Homo sapiens: one gene and its partners. The protein of the gene in region 4 purifies or fractionates together with the protein of the main gene of each other region. This does not show direct contact. Each region holds a gene or a part of one and is shown on either strand. Other genes may lie near its edges. The genes, in order: UBE3B, OSBPL9, CAMKK2, MYL4 and OSBPL11.

Evidence for each region.
Region 1: the proteins of MYL4 (region 4) and UBE3B purify together in Homo sapiens (affinity purification with mass spectrometry; one large-scale study listed by BioGRID and IntAct). This does not show direct contact.
Region 2: the proteins of MYL4 (region 4) and OSBPL9 purify together in Homo sapiens (affinity purification with mass spectrometry; one large-scale study listed by BioGRID and IntAct). This does not show direct contact.
Region 3: the proteins of MYL4 (region 4) and CAMKK2 purify together in Homo sapiens (affinity purification with mass spectrometry; one large-scale study listed by BioGRID and IntAct). This does not show direct contact.
Region 5: the proteins of MYL4 (region 4) and OSBPL11 purify together in Homo sapiens (affinity purification with mass spectrometry; one large-scale study listed by BioGRID and IntAct). This does not show direct contact.

What each region holds. Positions count from the first base shown.
Region 1 is NC_000012.12:109,532,985-109,536,642, reverse strand, and holds part of UBE3B (ubiquitin-protein ligase E3B), read right to left. Parts: intron 3,178-3,658; coding exon 3,085-3,177; intron 2,987-3,084; coding exon of another isoform or gene 2,807-2,986; exon of another isoform or gene 2,699-2,806; coding exon of another isoform or gene 2,579-2,698; exon of another isoform or gene 2,053-2,578; coding exon 1,861-2,052; 3' UTR 1-1,860. UniProt on the Homo sapiens protein: E3 ubiquitin-protein ligase which accepts ubiquitin from an E2 ubiquitin-conjugating enzyme in the form of a thioester and then directly transfers the ubiquitin to targeted substrates.
Region 2 is NC_000001.11:51,615,539-51,619,962, reverse strand, and holds the start of OSBPL9 (oxysterol-binding protein-related protein 9), read right to left. Parts: upstream 2,853-4,424; coding exon 2,742-2,852; intron 1-2,741. UniProt on the Homo sapiens protein: Interacts with OSBPL11 to function as lipid transfer proteins.
Region 3 is NC_000012.12:121,293,813-121,298,209, forward strand, and holds the start of CAMKK2 (calcium/calmodulin-dependent protein kinase kinase 2), read right to left. Parts: upstream 2,898-4,397; 5' UTR 2,826-2,897; intron 1-2,825. UniProt on the Homo sapiens protein: Calcium/calmodulin-dependent protein kinase belonging to a proposed calcium-triggered signaling cascade involved in a number of cellular processes. Isoform 1, isoform 2 and isoform 3 phosphorylate CAMK1 and CAMK4. Isoform 3 phosphorylates CAMK1D.
Region 4 is NC_000017.11:47,219,190-47,221,763, reverse strand, and holds part of MYL4 (myosin light chain 4), read right to left. Parts: intron 1,861-2,574; coding exon 1,711-1,860; intron 83-1,710; coding exon 1-82. UniProt on the Homo sapiens protein: Regulatory light chain of myosin. Does not bind calcium.
Region 5 is NC_000003.12:125,578,348-125,582,005, reverse strand, and holds part of OSBPL11 (oxysterol-binding protein-related protein 11), read left to right. Parts: intron 1-1,965; coding exon 1,966-2,141; intron 2,142-2,966; coding exon 2,967-3,046; intron 3,047-3,658. UniProt on the Homo sapiens protein: Plays a role in regulating ADIPOQ and FABP4 levels in differentiating adipocytes and is also involved in regulation of adipocyte triglyceride storage. Weakly binds 25-hydroxycholesterol. Interacts with OSBPL9 to function as lipid transfer proteins.

The DNA of each region.
Region 1 (3,658 bases), on a different chromosome or scaffold from region 4:
AAAAACAAAAAATCCTACAACTTTTTAGAGCCATCAAGAGCCATCAAGGTGTCAGTGAACACCAGTTACAAAAGGAGATTCAGTGTTTCAGATAGTGCAATATTTCCAGCTGCTGAAAAGAATTTAAATGAAATTACAAACTACCCCTCCTTGTCAAAAATCCACATGAAGTTGATATTGGTGCTTATAAATCACTCTCTCCCAGTCCCTCACTGGTTCCAACCTTCAGGTGATAAAAATTAGGATGGGATCCATCTTCCCTGTGCTGACAGTCTGGGGTCCCCGCATGTATGCACGAACCCGCCCAGCGTGCGCACACACGTTCAGAAGAAATCTTCAAAGGAACCGAGCGTTTGGAGAAAGTGGCAAGTCCACAGAATCAGAGGTTACGAACACACCTTCAATAATATTAATACATTCCTGTCTTTAAATTCCTTGCCATGTTTCCATCAAAGTAGAGCACACACTCTTTTCCAGAAGCCTGGGGGCTCGACCTGGGTGGGACACCAGGATGCAGCTGAAACTCTGAAGGACTGTGGAGACGGGTGGCCCCTGCTTTGCTGCCACTGTGACAGCTCTTGTTGGAAAATGTTTTGCGTCTTTGAGGAGAGCAGAGGAGGGACTGGGCCTTCCTGGCTTCGAATCCGGCATCAACCTTGGTGGTGCAGGTGCAGGAGCATGAGGTGGGAGAGGGTGGGTGGCTGTCAACACAGACCACAAACAGGGCCTCTGCCTCAGTTCCCTGGAGCTAAAGTTCTTACAACAAAGGTAAAGAATGAGGGCAGAGGAACACAATGGGTTGGAAGAGAAATGAAGTTTAAAAAAAAAACAAAAAACCCAGAGGGTGTGAGCCTCTGTCAGTGCAACGGGCTTCCGGGTTCCCTGTGCTGAGGAAGGATGGGCAGCAAGACCCAAGTTTCCTGGGATTTTGCAGACTCAGGAGTGAAGCCACCGCCCAGATGGGATGTGTACCTTAGGTTAGTGTTTGTTCCTCATTAGATAACCAGTGAGACAAATAAGCAGGGTCAAAGGCAGCCGTCCTCCGCGGGACAAGCAGGCTTTGGGGAACAGGCAGCACATTCTGGAAACGGGGCTGCTGCTAAGGGCCGTTGTTTTTCTTCCCCCAAACCAGGATGCCAATGTGAATGCATAGGACGGGAATAGGTCCGGGAAGACTCTCTGGCAGCTCAGCCCGCTGAGGACGCAGAAAATGGGAGGGCCGCGGCGTGGAGCGCGTGGCTTCAAGGCAGGAGCAGCGCCTTGGACTCACGGTGTCCATAGCGTCCCTAGCAGGCGCCTGCGCTTCCCTGGGCAGCAGATGGGCCTGGCTGTCTGGGAAGAGGCGCTGTGGACGGCATGGAGGCAGAAACTTTGTGGGGTGCATAGAGGCTTGGCGAGGCCTTACCTGAGTAAGAGATTTCAGAAACGGAAGGAGAGGATCTCACGCACAGTAGGCTTTGTACACTCAACCCATGCTGCAAAAACCACTCTAGACTCTTGGAACTCCTGGGACTTGTTCATACACAGCTCACTCAGACGGCTAAGGAAAGACAGACTCCCAAAAGATCAAACTAGCTAAAAGAAGCCCCTCTGCCATCACCAGGAAGAATGGACCCGTGTTGGTGGAATCTGGAGGTTTATTTTCTGCAGCCCTGTGCCTTGGGCATCACCTGGAGATGCTGTGTAGTGCTGTCGTGGGCGTCTAAATTTCTTGAGGCCACAAGGAGTCTCATGGCTATAGAGAGGGTCTAGGGGCCAATGTCACCTGGCATGTTGGTCACATTCCCAGGACCACACTGCCTCTGGGAGCTGAAGGTCCCTGGCAGCCCAGGAGCCCTGGAGGCAGGGCTGGGACAGGAGCTAGGAGAGTTCAAAGCCCGTGTTCATGCTGATGGCGTAGCGCAGCTTCTCGCGGAGGACGCTCTTCTTGCTGTAGTTGGGCAGCTTGAGCAGGTTGAAGCAGGTGGAGGAGGTGGGCAGGCGGCCGCCTGGCTCCCGCTTGCGGATGGTGAAGAAGCCCCGGAGGACGCTGCCCAGAGTGTCCCCGGTGTCCTGAAGGCACACATCGTGGCCTTGAATTGGGAAGGGCCTAGTTTGGGAGCCCAGGCTGATGCCAAGGCCAGGGAGCCCAGGGAGGGGATCTGGCCAGTCCCTGGATGCTGGGCAGAGTGCAGGGCGCTGCCCTGGCACCACTACCCGAGGTCAAGCCCCAGACACAAGACGACTGGCTTCCAGAGAAGGAACCCCTTCTCCCTGGGGCCTGCACAGAGAATTCCTGCACTAAGTAAGCTTTTGGAAATGGGGCCTTCCGGTTCACAGCGAATTACTGGTTAACCAATTGACAAAAAGTAGAATGCTGTAAAAACTGTTAGGTGCCCAAACATTTCTGAATGCACTCCTCCCTCCTCACCGGTGCTGTGGCCGGTGGCAGACCATGACTTGGGCCAACTTTCCCTTAAGCATGGAGGCCGAGGACTGTGTAGCTTCCTGTACAAGGTGGCATCACGGGCTCAAACTGCATCATGAGAGGCAGCTACACCCAGAGGCGGCCACTGGGTTTTTATGGGGAGTAGGACTCTCATTTGAGCACCCACAGTGGGCCAGGCTTGAGACACACAGAGCTCCGTAACCCTGAAGGCTTTCCTTCTCCTTTGGCCAATGAGGAAATGAAGCAGCGAGCCTGGACGTGCACAGCCTGCTGGGGTAGGAGTAGCATTCGAGTCTGCGCCTGCCTGCCTCCTGAGCCCACTCTCTCACTTTCTCCCATGCTGCCTCAGATCTGGAGCCCTGGTGAGGCCAGACGCCACTAAAAACAGCACGTACCCACCCCCACTCCAGGTACCCTTCCCTGAGGAAGGAAAGAGAAAGGGGCTGCCGAGAGAGGGCTGAGTCCGTGGGCAGTCTCTCTGGGGCTGGCTGGTTCTCCTGCCGTGAGAACTGTGGGGCCCTCCTCACTTGGCTCTGAGGGGTCCAGCTGCCTGCCTTGCTGAGATATGGACTAGATAAGGGCCTTGCACAGTGGGCACAGCAGACAACCACCAAGAGGGAAGTCAAGGCTCTTCCCCACCCACCCCGTGGGGGTACCTGATCGTCCGACACCTCCACGCAGCGGATGGAGAATGGAGGCTTGAGGTAGGCGAATCCCAGGAGCGGGGGTCTGGAGCAGCTGGTCACGAACTGCAACACAAAGCAGGGTCAGTGGGGACGGGGCAGGCTCCTGCTCTTCCAGGACGGGCCCTTGCAGCTGTGTAGCACGTGTTTGCTCTGTCTGTTACCGTGTTGTAACTGCTGTCTAGCCAGCCGTATGGAGTGGCGGGGTGGATCTGGCCCCAAAACTGGCACACGCCGTACATCTCTCTCAAGGGTGCTGCTCTCGGGGACTAAGACACATGAAACCCATACCCAATAGGTGCGACTGGCCACTTGTGAGAGCACGTGTGACTGCAGAGTAGGAACAGCACAAATGCCCAGCCAGGGCACTGGTGAGGCGTCCCCGAGAGGCAGGTCTCCTGTGGGATTGTTAAGAGGAACAGAGCAGCAGCTGACACCCTCCCACAGAGAGACCATGTGAGGAGAAAATGGGAGACGGTGAGGGCGAGGCGGAGGCTGGTGGCACCCACTGCACGTGGTGCGAACAGAGGGAGCCCGGGAGACCCGC
Region 2 (4,424 bases), on a different chromosome or scaffold from region 4:
CACAGAGACAGACTACAGGCCAAGTGATTTTGGAAACAAGAAATAAAGTTATGCTATTCACTGCCTTGCTTGGAAGGCTACACAACTAATTCAGATATTCTTCCTGGAAGATGTAGCTCCAAGTTATTAGCCACATGCAAATCATTAATATGTACCTTCAAATCCTTCAGAATCCGAATGGACTGAAATAATGTCATGTGTGTAGAATTCATTGCCAATATCCAATGTGTCTCCTACCTTCCCTTTTAAGTAAATATCTATCCTTTTCCCCTCTTCACTAGACCTCCTCTAATTTGAGATTGGGTATCATTTTATTTTCACAAGATGGTACAACAATTGTCTGTTGTTTCTCTGTAAGCAAATACTTCAATATCAAGGAACTAGAAAAGAAAAAAAATCTTCTAAACAGCTGTTAGTGAGAAATATGATACTTCCTTCCTCTGGCAAGGATAATATTTTAGGGAATCTAGTCTCAAAAAGAAGGATAAGCATTGAGGGGGAAAAAAGTATTTTTTTAAACCCTATATTTAGCCAGCAAGAAAAGAGATATTTGTCCAAGTATTCAAAAACTGAAAGGGCAACAAAGCAGAAAAAGGATACATGAAAAGAAGAAAAAGAGGAAAAAGGAAGATTCTTTCTGGGCTAGGCATTCCCAAGAACCTCAGCTGGGGGCCTCTCCAGTATGGTCCTAGATTCAGATCCACACAAATTTGGGATTTGTAAAGTAACTTAACTGCATAGTGTCACTCACTGAAATCACTCTATCTTGAATAGAGTTTACGGGATTTTCTGATTATCACATCTACTTAAACCCAATATTACTTTTCCTTTATCTAAGCCATGGGTTTCATAATTCCAGAGTTTTCAGGACATAATATTCAGTTGCCTCTCTTTCATGCCCACCTAAAGACAATCTTGAACAATGTGTTTAAGACTCATTAAGGTTTAGTCTTTTTCCCTTTAAAAACTATGTAGAGAAAGAAAGCTGATAGTTGAAGGATGATGAAAGTAATACTTTTACTCTTGCAAGCTTGCCTTTAGTAACTCACAACTTACACTTTTCTCCTTCCTGTAGTGAAAGCGAAGTTTAGTAGAAAAAGTCAATAATTTGGCATCCTGATTCCATCACTTAGTGCTATGTGATGTTGAGCAAATTGCTTTAAAAGCCTGGAGCCTCAGATTTCAAAACTGTAACTGGGGATATTAAATGGAGATAATGAATAACCACCTTGCAGAGTTATTAGGAGTGAAATGAATTAAAGGACTCACCAAGCTAGTATATAAGCTCCAGAGAAGAGGAACAGTGAATGTCTTTTTTACTGTCTATTCTTGCTGGCATGAAAACGCACATAGCAGCTCAATAATATTTTTTAAATGAACAAATAAATTCAGTGTCCCCTTTCTCTCATCAACCTTAATCCTTCTTCCATAATCATGTTTTTCTTTCTGTCTTCTATTATTTTCTAAAGCTTTCTGGGCATTCTATTTTGTCCTCTTATGTATTTTCTTCCCTCATATCGGCTATCGTCAACTATACACCATTCAGAGAAAGTACCTTTCTAAGTAAGTTATCTCCCTAATACCACCTACTCTCCATATCGAATGCGATGAGGGTGGAGGGGATAGTCAAAACATAAGATTCAAGGCCGGACGCGGTGGCTCACGTCTGTAATCCCAGTACTTTGGGAGGCCGAGGCGGGTGGATCACCTGAGGTCAGGAGTTCAAGACCAGCCTGGCCAACATGGTGAAACCCCGTCTCTACTAAAAATACAAGAATTAGCAGGGTGTGGTGGCGCATGCCTGTGATCCCAGCTACTAGGGAGGCCAGAGGCAGGAGAATCGCTTGAACCCGAGAGGCAGAAGTTGCAGTGAGCCGAGATGATGCCATTGCACGCCAGCCTGGGCAACAGGGCGAGACTCCGTCTCAAAAAAAAAACCACACACACACACACACACACACACACAACCACGTAAGATTCACAGCAATTCATCTACTTTTCCACGGCCACCAACTCATGTTAACAACAGTGAAGCCCTGAACCCAGAATGTAACTGTAAGGGGACACTGCACTATCACTTGTCTCTCTTCGCTGACAAGAGTCTCGCGTGTAGGAAATCCTTGGCTCTCAAAAGTTAAGGCGTCGTTTGAGCTCGCCTCCCGCTAAATAGAGGGGTGCGTCCCTTGAATGAGACACACAACCTGAACCGACTGGAGGGATTTCGGACCCCCTGGTGTTGCCCGAGGGCTGGTCACTTTTGGACCTGTCCCGGCTCCTCTGGCCACTCCTCCGAGGAAGCAGAGCTCTTCAATCCCTGGAGGGAAGCTAAGGGGTGCGGCCGGCTACAGGGCCTTGGTGGGACAGTGTAAAGTCCATGACAACATATGAAGACAGCATGAACCGCAAGACTGGACCTTTTAAGCCATGACTACGATCACCCTTACCCGCTCACAACCATGCTGGACCCCACTACCGCTTAATAGCGGACCCTAAGAAAGAAACTTGGCTCACCCCCAACCCATAAATCAGACAGCTAGTTTCTATTTATTGGCTGCGCCCCTCTCTCCCTCACCCTCATTGGCTATCCGAGACGTAAAACCCTCCCCAACAAGGGAACCCTCGCGTACGGCGGCACCCCCAGACTAGCAACCTCAACTCAGCCACCTAAAACCCCGGTCCCCCACCTCCACCCAGGAAACGCGGCCCCGAGGCGCCTGGAGCTGTGCCCTCCAAGGACTCACCGTGTAGTAGGAGAGCAGTCCTGCATTGTAGTCCAGCACGAACCAACGGTACTGCCAGCCCTTCATCACGTTAGTCCATTTGCTCAGCGGCCCTTCCATGATGGACGCCATCTTGGGAGCCGCCAATGACAACAAACGGCCTGACGTCACTCGCCTATATGGCATTCAGCATGCGGGGGGCGGGGCCGCAGGGGGCGGGGCGGGTCCTGGGCGGGTCCTGGGCGGTGCCGGCAGATGCTCCAGCGATCAAGTCAAACACGCTTTCTTAGGGCGCCTATTGTGTGTAGGACTCCATGCCACGGATGCGAGAATGCAAACGTGAATACTGCTATTAAGATTATTTATAATCTGTCATGGGATTAGAGTAAAGAAAAAAGATTATGAACATATTAATAAATAATTTTACTGGCCATGATACCTTCCACTTCCAAAAGATTTCATATCTGATATTCATTTATGCATTCATTCCACAAATCCATTCATTTAATAAATATTCGCTGTTTTGTGCTAGGCATTCTTCTAGACATTGGGGATACAACAGAGCCTTCATGACAGGTGAGGGGAATGGTAAAATAAATAGTAAATTATATCGTACATTAAAAAATCATAAATGCTATGGAGAAAAACATAAGCAAGGAAGGAGAGAGCGCTGGGACTGCTATTTTAAATTCCCAAACAGGGAAGGCCTGAGTGAAAAGGTAACTTTTAAGCAAAGACCTGAAGAAAGCGAAGGAGGGAGCCTGGTGGAAGAGCCTTCCAAGACGAAGGAATAGCAAATGCAAAGACCAAATGTTAGGAGTGAGCGTGGCATCTTGAGGGATCAACAAGGAGGTCAGTGTGCGTGGAGCAGTGAGCCAGGGAGAAAGTGGTGGGAGATAAGGTCAAAGAAGTAGGGATAGATCACTAACAGCCTACAGGGGCAATTTAAGCATTTATTGGCTGGGCGCGGTGGCTCGCACCTGTTATCCCAGCACTTTGGGTGGCCGAGGCAGGCAGATCACTTGAGATCAGGCGTTCGAGACCAGCCTGGCCAACATGGTAAAAGCCCATCTCTACTAAACATACAAAAATTATCTGGGCGTGGTGGCGCACCCTGTAGTCCTAGCTGAGGCACAAGAATCACTTGAACCTCGGAGCCGAGATTGCATCACTGCACTCCAGCCTGGGTGACAGAGCCAAATTCTCTCTCACACAAAAAAAAAAAAAAAAAAAAAAAAACCAAAGGATTTATTGACCACCTACTATATCTAGGCACTGTTGGAGGTCCTGGGAATACAGCAGTGAATAAGCTCTCTCAGAGCTTAAATTCTGTGGTGAAAGCAAACACTAAACAAGTAAACAAGAAAAATATCCAATACTGATTAACACTGCAAATAATTTAATAAATTATTTTAATAGGAAGTCAGTGGGTAGCTAATTTATAGGGGGTGGTTATAGGGCAGGCCTCTTAGGAAGTGGCTTTAAACTTAGATATGGAGGATAAGAAAAGGCCAGCCGTGCAAATATCAAGAGAAAGAGCTAAAAAGGAAACTAAAAGATGAGGCACTAGCTGGAAACGGAGGTGTGGTCAAGGGAAGGGCTTTCTTTGTCCTTTTTTAAAATTATTATTTAGATCGAAGACACTAGAGAATATTACTTTGCTGATTTTCAAGAGAGGGAAAAACTGGGGACATCCTAGAGAAA
Region 3 (4,397 bases), on a different chromosome or scaffold from region 4:
GAGGAGATTTCTCCAGAACCCTCAGTGCCCTGTGCTCCTTCGATCACAACAGCACTCATTCCTTGTGGTGTTTCTCAACAGTGGCACTGCTGGCATTTGGGGGAGGGTGATTTTTTTTTGTTTTTTGTTTGTTTTTTGAGAGGAAGTCTCCTTCTTGTGCCCCACGCTGGAGTGCAATGGCACGATCTCAGCACACTGCAACCTCCGCCTTCCAGGTTCAAGTGATTCTCCTGCCTCAGCCTCCCAAGTAGCTGGGATTACAGGTGTGTGCCACCACGCCCAGCTAATTTTTGTATTTTTAGTAGAGATGGGGTTTCACCATGTTGGCCAGGCTGGTCTCGAACTCCTGACCTCAGGTGATCCTCCTGCCTCGGCCTCCCAAAGTGCTGGGATTACAAGCGTGAGCCACCACGCCCAGCCAGGGGAGGGTGATTCTTTATGTCGTGGCCCTGGCCTGCCTACAGGACACTTTAGTAGGCATCCCTGACTCCCGCCCACTAAAAGCCAGGAGTGCTTAGCATCATTTTGACAACCAAAAGTCGCCCCCACACTTTCCCAAATCCCTGCCAGGAGGGTGGGACCACCCCCGGATGAGAACTAGTGCATTGTTATTAGTGACTATATTTAGCTACCAGCCCACTAGCCATATCTAAGGATGGGCAGTACTACAGACCCTGCATAGAGCTGCATCGGCAAACACTGATGTAGTGAATAAACAAAACAAAACAAACTCCTGGGCTCCTCAAGAAGCTCAGGGCAGCCTTGCCAGGGTCTCTGCTCTTGAACAGGTGCACAAAGGTTCTAAGGCCTGACATGCCTGCACTGGCTGTGTGACCCTGAGCAAGTTACTTAACTTCTCTGAGCCCTTCTATAAAATGGGGCTAAATCCTAGCAACACTGCAGGATTTCTGTAAACCTCAGTCTCCTAATCTCTACTATGGGGTTAAAATTCCCTACGTTGTAGGATTTGGTAGGCATTAAATGAGATAATGCATGTAACACATAGCACAGAATCTGGCAGGCAGCAAGAACTCAATAGATGTTAGTTTTTAATACTGTTATTATTATTATTGTCCAGGGCCAGGTGGCAGCTCATGCCTGTAATCCTAGCACTTGGGAGACTGACGTAGGCGGATCACTTGAGGTAAGGAGTTCAAGACCAGCCTGACCAACATGGTGAAACCCCTTCTCTACTAAAAATACAGAAATTAGCCAGGCATGGTGGTGGGCGCCTGTAATCCCAGCTACTGGAGAGGCTGAGGCATGAGAATCGCTTGAACCCGGGAGGCGGAGGTTGCAGTGAGCCAAGATTGTGCCACTGCACTCCACCCTGGGCAACAGAGACTCCGTCTCAAAATAAATAAATAAGTATTCTTATTATTATCCAAGTTAGGGGCTCATCAAATGATGGCTATTACTCTTCATTACAAAAATATGTTTTGCGTCCTCATCACCAATGCCTGCTTCCTCCATAGGAAGGGTGTGTGTCACCAATGCCTGCTTCCTCCATAGGAAGGGTGTATGAGCAGCAGTCTGGAAGGGGTATGTGGGGCTTGCCCTAAAGCTGCATTTGCATGGCATGCACACTATTTATTCTGAAACTGCATGTTTTTGTGGGGTGATTAGGGAAGAGGGTGGCTAACTCCCCCAAAGCCCTCCCCTTGTTGCAGCCCCCGCCTCCTCCAAGGAACAAAGGAGCTTATGGGGACATAAAGCCATCCTCTTCTCTCTCCTCTGGGGGCAGAGCTAGGGGAGGGGGAGTGGTAAATGGCAGCACAGCTCTAGGGCACCTGAAGTTTCTATCCCCTGCGTGGAGACTCCAAACACCAGGCTGGGGAAGGTAAAAGTAGCCTGTAGGGAGATGGACGCTGCAGGTCCCATCCGGAGGCCAGGTATCCCTCTCTTGCTGATAGCACTGAGACGCCCTCCCCAAAGCTCAGCCTTCTCGGGGAGATCGGAGGGGCTGAGCTGCATCCTGTCCAGCACTAAGTGAGAGTGGCCAGGAGGGCAGGCTGGCAGAGCTGTGAAAGCACCCACTTCCCCAGCTAGGCAGTGCAGGGGCTGGGGGAAAGCCAGGAAAAGCTCAAGGCTGGGTCGGGTGGCACCCCAGGCACAGAGCCCCAATGCTGAGAGGGGCTGGGTCCAGTGTCCCTGAGAGTCAGGCGGACGCCTCTCCGCATTCACAGCATACTGCAACCCCGAGGTGAATTTAGGTCAGAAGGACCAAGCCTGTGAGGCTCCGGCTGAGAGAAGAGGTGCGGTGGGGGTGGTCAAAGGGCAGACCGAAGACAGCCAAAGGTCCCCTAGGTCCCCACAACTGCTGGCCTAGGGTCCTGCCACCTGGTGTCCAAGCCACCAGGGCCTGGGTTTGCCCCGAGACAGGCAGGCTGCGGGGTGGGGGTGCTCCAAGTCCGCTGGTCCTCTCTTCCCCGGAACGCTCCAGATTTCCCCACCTGTCAAACGCGAGGGGCTGGGCCTAGGCCGCCTCCACGAACCCTGACGGACCCGGCCCCCGGTGACCCCGGTTCCAAACTCCAGGACCGCCCCTGCCACCCGGACAGGGCGCGGCCCAGCCGAGGAGGCCATCCCGAGGCCCAGGGCGCCCAGAGGACGCGGGGGAAGGGCTGTCGGGGACCGTGTCCCTCCACGTGGCGGGGCGTGGGGAGGCGCACGTGGGGTCCCTCCGTGTTGGGAGCCCCAGGCCAGCCTCCGGGCTTTGTGTGCCATGCCGGCGGCGGTCCCCCGCCTCGAGAGGGAAACGGAGCGGGCGCCCGGGGCCGCGGCGGCTGCGTCCCTTGCCCCGGGCCCGGCTACCGCCAGCTCACCTGGGCTCCGCGCCGCCGCCGCCTCCCGCGCTCTGCGCCCCCAGCTCGGCTCGGCTCGGCTCAGCTTGCTCTGCGCGGCCGCGCGCTCCTCTCCTCCGCCCGGGCGGCGGGCGCGCGGGGGGCGGGGGCGGGAGGAGCCGCCCGGCTCGGCTTGGGCGCGTCGCCGCCCCGGGCAGCGCGGGGATTGGCCACGGCGGCGGGAAACCCGAAAGCGGAACCGCCCGCGCCCGCCGCGCACCGCCCCCTGCGCGCCCCCGCCGGCTCGGCCCTGCGCCGGGGAGGGGTGGGGAGGCGGGAGCCTGCAAAGACGAAAGTAGCGAAGAGGCGAAGGGCAAGGAGCAGAAAGGGAGGAGGCGAAGAACGGGGGAAGAGAGGCCCGGCCGGGAGGATCGGAGGCGGCTGGGAGGAGAGCCTGGAGGGGCGCGGAGCGCAGGAGGTGGCGCCGCAACTTTGTACCCGCTCGCCCGCGGCGCGCACCTGCCCAGGTTCTTCCCGCGGCGCCCTCGGGCGGGCCGCGCCGGCAGCGCTTGCTTTGTTTAGCCAAATGCCGGGGCTGCAGGGCGCCTCCGGGCTGACCCTGGGAAAGTTCCCCCAAGCCGGCAAGAACACCCGGGGCCCCTCCTGTGGCGACCCGGCTGCTGCCCCTGCGCTAGGCGCCGGGCGGTGGATGCGGCCTGGACTTTGGGCCACCACCGACTCGGGGGAGCCCCCTTCCGCAGCTGCCTGCCGACTGACCACTTGCTCAGGGCCGGCCCTAAAGGCTGGGGGAAGGCGTTCCTCTCCCATCCCCAGCCCACCTGGATGCACCATTGAAGTTCATTCTGGCTTTTCCAGATGGCTACTTAGATGCTTTTTGTGAAATACAGCATATTCTTCCCATTCTCCCCTTTTTGGCACTTACTTTGCTGGAGCCTTAAGTGTGCGTTGGATCCCCCAGCTGGATAACAGCACTGTGCGGGGAAGAGGAGAAACGAAGACCTGGAGGGCTCCCTGAACCGTCCTACGGGGTCGAGCGACCCAGGGGATGTCTCACTGACCCTGCCAAACAGCCAAAAGGGAATCGAGTTGACAGGAGAGTCAACCTCCAAGTTAATAAAAGGTTCAAAGCCCTCTAGTTAACTGGGTGGATTTCCAGCCCGTTCCGATGTGCTTCTCTTGTATTTCTAGGCCGTAGGGACACTCACATGCAACGAGCCAATGAGAGCTCCACCCCGACTCCCTTTTTTTTTTTTTTTTTTTTCTTTTCTGAAACGGAGTCTCGCTCTGTCGCCCACGCTGGAGTGCAGTGACGCGATCTCGGATCACTGCAACCTCTGCCTCCCAGGTTCAAGCAGTTCTCTGCCTCAGTCTCCCGAGTAGCTGGGATTACAGGCGCCGGCCACCATACTTGGCTAATTTTTGTATTTTTCGTAGAGATGGGGTTTCACCATGTTGTCCAGGCTAATCTTGAATTCCTGACCTCGTGATCCACCCGCCTTGGCCTCCGAAAGTGCTGGGATTACAGGTGTGAGTCACCGCGCCCGGCCCACTCCCATTTTTTTTTCTTTGTTTTTTTTGTTTGTTTGTTTGTTT
Region 4 (2,574 bases):
TAGGTGCCCTGCTCCTTGTTGCGGGAAATGTGCTGCAGGATGGGCAAGAACGTCTCAAAGTCCAGCATCTTGACATTCATCTCTTCAGGCAGGCAGGGTAAAGAAAGAGAAATCAATGTGAGCAGGTGCTCAAGGGAGCAGAGGGTCAAGAGGGGGCCTCACCCCAAGTCTGACAGCACCCAGGGCTTGGGCTGCAGCCAATTCTGGGTGGTACACCCATTAGTGCTCCTAGAGGACACAGAGCTTCCCATCCAAGCAAGGTAGGGGACTGGGAGCTGGGGAGATGGTCTCAGGGGCCCTCTTTTCTCAGTGAAAGCAGTAGGATGGAAGGAAAAAGGAGCCCTCCACCCAGACCTCTAAGCACCAGGTGGCCAGCCAAGCGGAGGAGCTGAGGGTGGCAGCAGCAGGATGTGAGGGGTCTGAAGTGCCACGCGGCCCGGGCCTCACACTCAGTTTAGACCCTTGACGTGACAGACCTATAATCACAGGGGCAAACCAACAGGATTGAAAAAAGCAACGTTTGCATCACTCTGCATGGGGTCCCATCACTAGACCACACAGCTTGAAGCTACTCTGAATCAATAATTCTTATAAATTCACAGTTCTCTTGTGAATAGCATACTTCTCCCACATGGTAGTGTATTTAAAAGGCTTTAATTTAATAGAGGCAAACTATTTTTAAATATCACAAATGTGGGCATTTCTTTCTTTTATAAGCACACAGGACTTGCTTCTGACTTCTGAGATGCAAGCCCCTAGCCCTCTGGTCCTTTCCTGCCCACATCCTTCACCCCCGCGGTTACCTTCAGCCAGAGGAGAAGGGGGACGGGCCAGAACCAAGGGATGGGGAGGAAACCACTATGGGGCCCAGGAAGCCTCCAGAGACAGACCACCCTTGCTGAGAGGCTCACCCCACCCCAAACCCCGTGCCAACACCACTGAGGAGAAGCATGTGTGTGTGTTTTAGAGCAGCTGTTAACTTGACTGGCACACATGACAGACAACATTCACAAACAGGACACACTCCCTCACACCTCTTCTCATCTGCCGTAATGATTGACAGAGGCACAGCTCACATGAGTATGAACACTCAATGATCACACTTAGGAGCCACAAAAGAATCGTTTGCACCACTTTCTAAACACTTACTCACCATTCTAAACACTCACTCACCAAAACCTATTGAAATGCAAATGAATGAAAGAGGCAGCACGTAGAGCTAAGAATCTTGAAGCTGCTCTAATTTATACCAAACAATTTGCAAACGTCAGTACTCTAACCATTATTAGAAACAAATTGTTTGTAATACAGCTCGCGATGGCCACCACAGGATACCTCGGTGCTGTGACAGATGCCCCTCCTGAGAGCTCCTGGGCTGGGGAGTGGGAACCATCAGTTATCAGATTTCCAGATTCCCACTCAGCCTTCCTCAGACACTGAGGCAACAGAATGTGGCTCATGCCCCACAGGAGCTCCCAACCTCGTGAGGGAAACAAGCCCAGGCTACATTCCTCAAGGGTCACTTAAGTACGGGGACGTCTAGATAAATTCTCAAAATGGGACTAGGGTAAGCTGGGTAGGTGAGGCTGGTCCTGAGGGGCTAAAGCAGGAGAAGAGAGAGTGCAGATGGCAGAGAAGATCTGGACAAGGAGGAAGCCAAGGGGCTGCAAGCCTGACCCTGGGAGAGGTCTGCCATGCAGCCGCACTGACCTTCAGGCTTGGGCTTGCCCAGCACACGCAGCACCTCGGCATTGGTAGGGTTCTGGCCCAGGGCCCGCAGTACATCCCCGCACTGGCCGTAGGTGATCTTCATCTCTCCAGTCGGGGTCCGGTCAAACAATGAAAAGGCCTCTTTGAACTCTGTGGAGAGAAGACCCAGCTATACCTTCCAATCCCCAGTGAAGGTGGTGGCTGGTGGCCAATCAGCCTCCACCCAAGCTGAATAGCAGGTGAGTGTGGTTGTTAAAATATCCCAATATTTCGCTTTGTCCATTATCCCAGGCCGTCCCTCGAACCCGTCCTCATCCCATCTTCTGTCAACCAAAGAAGCAGCCTGGTGCCTCCACGACCCATTCCAGGGCTGGGACTGGGATCTCTTCTATTGCTTCGTTGTTATAAAATTCCAGTGTTGGGAGGCTGCGGCCCGAGAATCGCTTGAGCTCGGGAGGCAGAGGTTGCAGTCAGCCAAGATCGCACCACTGCACTCCAGCCTGGGTGACAGAGTGAAACTCCATCTTGAAACAAAAAAAAAATTCAGATGTCTCCCTGGCCTCCACCCCTCCCACCCACACATCCCGCTCTGGTGTAGGTGAGGTTCCTGACTCCTGAAATGACAGACAAGTGAAAACAGCACTGGCCCAGAAGTGAGGATTCCTAAATTCTCATCTTGGCTCTGCCTCAGAGTGCAGGATAAGCTGGGCTGGGTCTCAGCTTCATGTGCACACAAAGGGAGTGACAACTACACCCCACTCCCTGGGCCTGTCACTGTGAGAGCAAAGGGAGGTCGCAGTGTGTGGAAGCACTTTACAAAGTGATAAGACCGCTGGAAAGTCAGCTGTTATCAGTACTGCCTGT
Region 5 (3,658 bases), on a different chromosome or scaffold from region 4:
ATTTTATATTAATTAATTAATTAATTATTTTTGAGACAGGGTCTTGCTCTGTTGCCCAGGCTGGAGTATAGTGGCATGATCTCAGCTCACTGTAACCTCCACCTCGGGCTGAAATCATCCTCCTGCCCCAGCCTCCTAAGTAGCTGGAGCTACAGGCATGCACCACCACACCCATCTAATTTCTGTATTTTTTTTTGTAAAGACAGGGTTTTGCCATGTTGGCCAGACTGGTCTCGAACTCCTGGATTCAAGCAATCTCAACTCATCCAGCCCTTTTTAGAGTTACTTTTTTTTTTTTTTTTTTTTTTTTGAGATGGAGTCTCACTCTGTCACCTAGGCTGCAGTGTAGTGGTGCAATCTCAGCTCACCGCAACCTCTGCCTCCAGGGTTCATGTGATTCTTCTGTCTCAGCCTCCCAAGTAGCTGGGATTACAGGTGCACGCCACCTCGCCCAGCTAGTTTTTTGTATTTTAGTAGAGACGGGGTTTCACCGTGTTGCCCAGCCTGGTCTCAAACTCCTAAGCTCAGGCAGTCCACCCGCCTTGGCCTCCCAAAGTGCTGGGATTACAGGTGTGTGCCACCGTGTCTGGCCTAGCGTTCCTTTTTTAAAAAGGGGCCAGATGAGGTGACTCACACCTGTAATCCAAGCACTTTGGGAGGCCGAGGCGGGAGGATCGCCTGAGTTCAGGAGTTTGAGATCAGTCTGGCCAACATGGCAAAACTCCATCTCTACGAAAAATACAAAAATTAGCTGGGCATGGTGGTGGGCGCCTGTAATCCCAGGTACTTGGGAGCTGAGGCATGAGAATCGCTTGAACCTGGGAGGCAGAGGTTGCAGTGAGTCAAGGTGGTGCCACTGCACTCCAGCCTGGGCAACAGAGCACGACTCCATCTCAAAAAAAAAAAAAATTATTACACTACTTAAATTGGAATTTCTGAAATGTATTTTTGAAAGTAGTTAATCTAGAACCAAATCAGAATTTTTTTTTCCAAAGTGTATTAGTATTTCATCAAATTCTTTTCCAGAGTGTATCAGCATTTCATCATTTAGTTTCAAGGTCCTTATGTTTCAGCATCTCCAATTGCAGCTTTTTCATTTTTAAACAGGAGAAGTAATCTTTAGTTTTGACTTATTTAATGATTCATTCACAAAATCTTTTTTACCCTGTTATTCTTGTTGTATATTTCACTAATTCTTAAATCACAATGCATATCTTGCCTAGTATATCTTGCCTTAACCTCAGAGCTCATATTTTGATTTATTTCCGGTGAATTTTAAAGAAAAATTTTCACTACCATTTGTCCTTTGGCAGTTTACCCTCTGTTAATGAATTCTGGGGAAAAATCTGTCTCTGAAAGGATATGGTATCTTTGCTTCCTTTTGTGCATTAACTGATAGGCCTCTTAATAAATGCCTCTCCCTCAGCTGAAGGGTTTATTATATCTTTTATTAAACTCATTCAATTTTTTTTTTTTTTTTTTTTTTTTTTTGAGACGGAGTTTTGCTCTTTTTGCCCAGGCTGGAGTGCAGTGGCTCGATCTTAGTGCAGTGCAACCGCTGCCTCCCAGATTCAAGCGATTTTCCTGCCTCAGCCTCCCGAGTAGCTGGGATTACAGGCATGCACCACCACACCTGGCTAATTTTGTATTTTTAGTAGAGATGGGGTTTCACCATGTTGGCCAGGCTGATCTCGAACTCCTGACCTCAGGTGATCCGCTCGCCTCTGCCTCCCAAAGTGCTGGGATTAGAGGCGTGAGCCACTGCGCCTGGCCTAACTCATTCGATTTTTAGTAATCTTCCCTGCTGGAAAATTCAGTGTAGTGTTTCCAGGTACCTCTTGAAATGCTTTTAAATTTTATTTTTAAGAGCAAAACCCTGAAATGTGTAAGTGATTGAAGTTTGCTTTGCTTTAGTTTGCTGAGGGAAAATGTTTACAAATTATGGATTTTAAAAAATCATTACAGGTTTTTTGTTTTAAACAATGAAGCTGGGCTGTTGGAGTACTTTGTGAATGAACAGTCTAGAAATCAGAAACCTAGAGGAACTTTGCAGCTTGCAGGAGCTGTAATATCACCCAGTGATGAGGATTCTCACACCTTCACTGTAAACGCTGCCAGTGGGGAACAATATAAACTCAGAGGTATGACCAAAATATGAGAATTAATACTGTGATTTTCCTCTTTTTTTGAGAAGTTGGTGTCTTACATGCTTTCATATGGGCTTTGGAAATAGAAACTGCTGTCATCAGTGATGTAAATACAATATTCTGAACCTTGGAACTGCTTTGAGAATTTATGAAATCTTTTGTAATAAGTAACTGTTTTCAAGTGGGACAATGTATGTTTGTTTAGGACTGGCCCCTCTGAAAAACGGTGTAGGTGAAACTCTGATTACTGAAAATCTAGAAACATAGACTTTAAATGATATTTTTTATGTATTTCACCCCTTTACTTGGTTTAGTTTACGTGCCCTTTTTGCAGTTTTCAGTAACTAATGTACATTATTGGGATTTATTATAATGTCATTCATTAAAATAACGTATAACTTCTGTTAAGATAAATTTAATTTGTGTAGAAGTTTTTTATTTAATGAATACACAAAGTATAATGGTAATCCTAAGTGAGCGTGCTCCTGCAGATCTGAAAGTATTGATTATACATCAAATAATTAAGGGGTTATTTCTTTAAATAAGAACCTATTTTTATGAGTTGCAACATGTCAGTCTCTCATCCTCACCTCACTGCATGTAATTTCTCCTTTTAATGAAGTAACTACATCCAGCTACTGTGTTCCCTAACAACGTTGGTGCTTTGGCCTCTTTCCTGCCTCCCTCCAGTCAGGGAAGTTTGCTCTAGTGAGAGTAAGACCAGTATCTGCTTTTCAGTGATCTGATCTTCATACTGTAGGCAATTAATTGTGTTCCAGAATAAATAAATATAAAATAATTTTTACATTCTTTTAACAGCTACAGATGCAAAAGAGCGACAGCACTGGGTTAGCAGACTTCAGATATGTACACAGCATCATACTGAAGCTATTGGAAAGGTATGTAGATTTATATACAATATTAATATACAAAAATGAGGAAGGAATATTTTTTATTTTTTGCCTTTTAAAATTGAGATACTATTCATATACCGTAAAATTCACCCTTTTAAAGTATATACGTATAATCCTGTGGTTTTTAGTATATTCACAAGGTGGTTCAACCATTGTAACTTTCTTTTTTTTTTTGAGACGGAGTCTCTCTCTGTGGCCCAGGCTAGAGTGCAGTGGCGCAATCTTGTCTCACTGCAACCTCTGCCTCCCGGGTTCAAGTGATTTTCCTGTCTCAGCCTCCCAAGTAGCTGGGACTACAGGCACACACCACCACACCCAGCTTATTTTTGTACTTTTAGTCAAGACAGGTTTCTTTACTAAAAAAAGTTGTTTCTTTACTAAAAATGTTGGCCAGGCTGGCCTCGAACTCCTGACCTCAAGTGATCCGCCCACCTTGGCTTCCCAAAGTGCTGGAATTACAGGTGTGAGCCACCGCACCTGGCCAAATTGCAGCTTTCTAATTTCAGAACATTGTCATCTCTCCCACAAAAAAAATAAAAAATCCGGAGCCACTAGCAGTCACTCCCTGTTCTCTCCTTCCCAATCCCCTAGCAAACT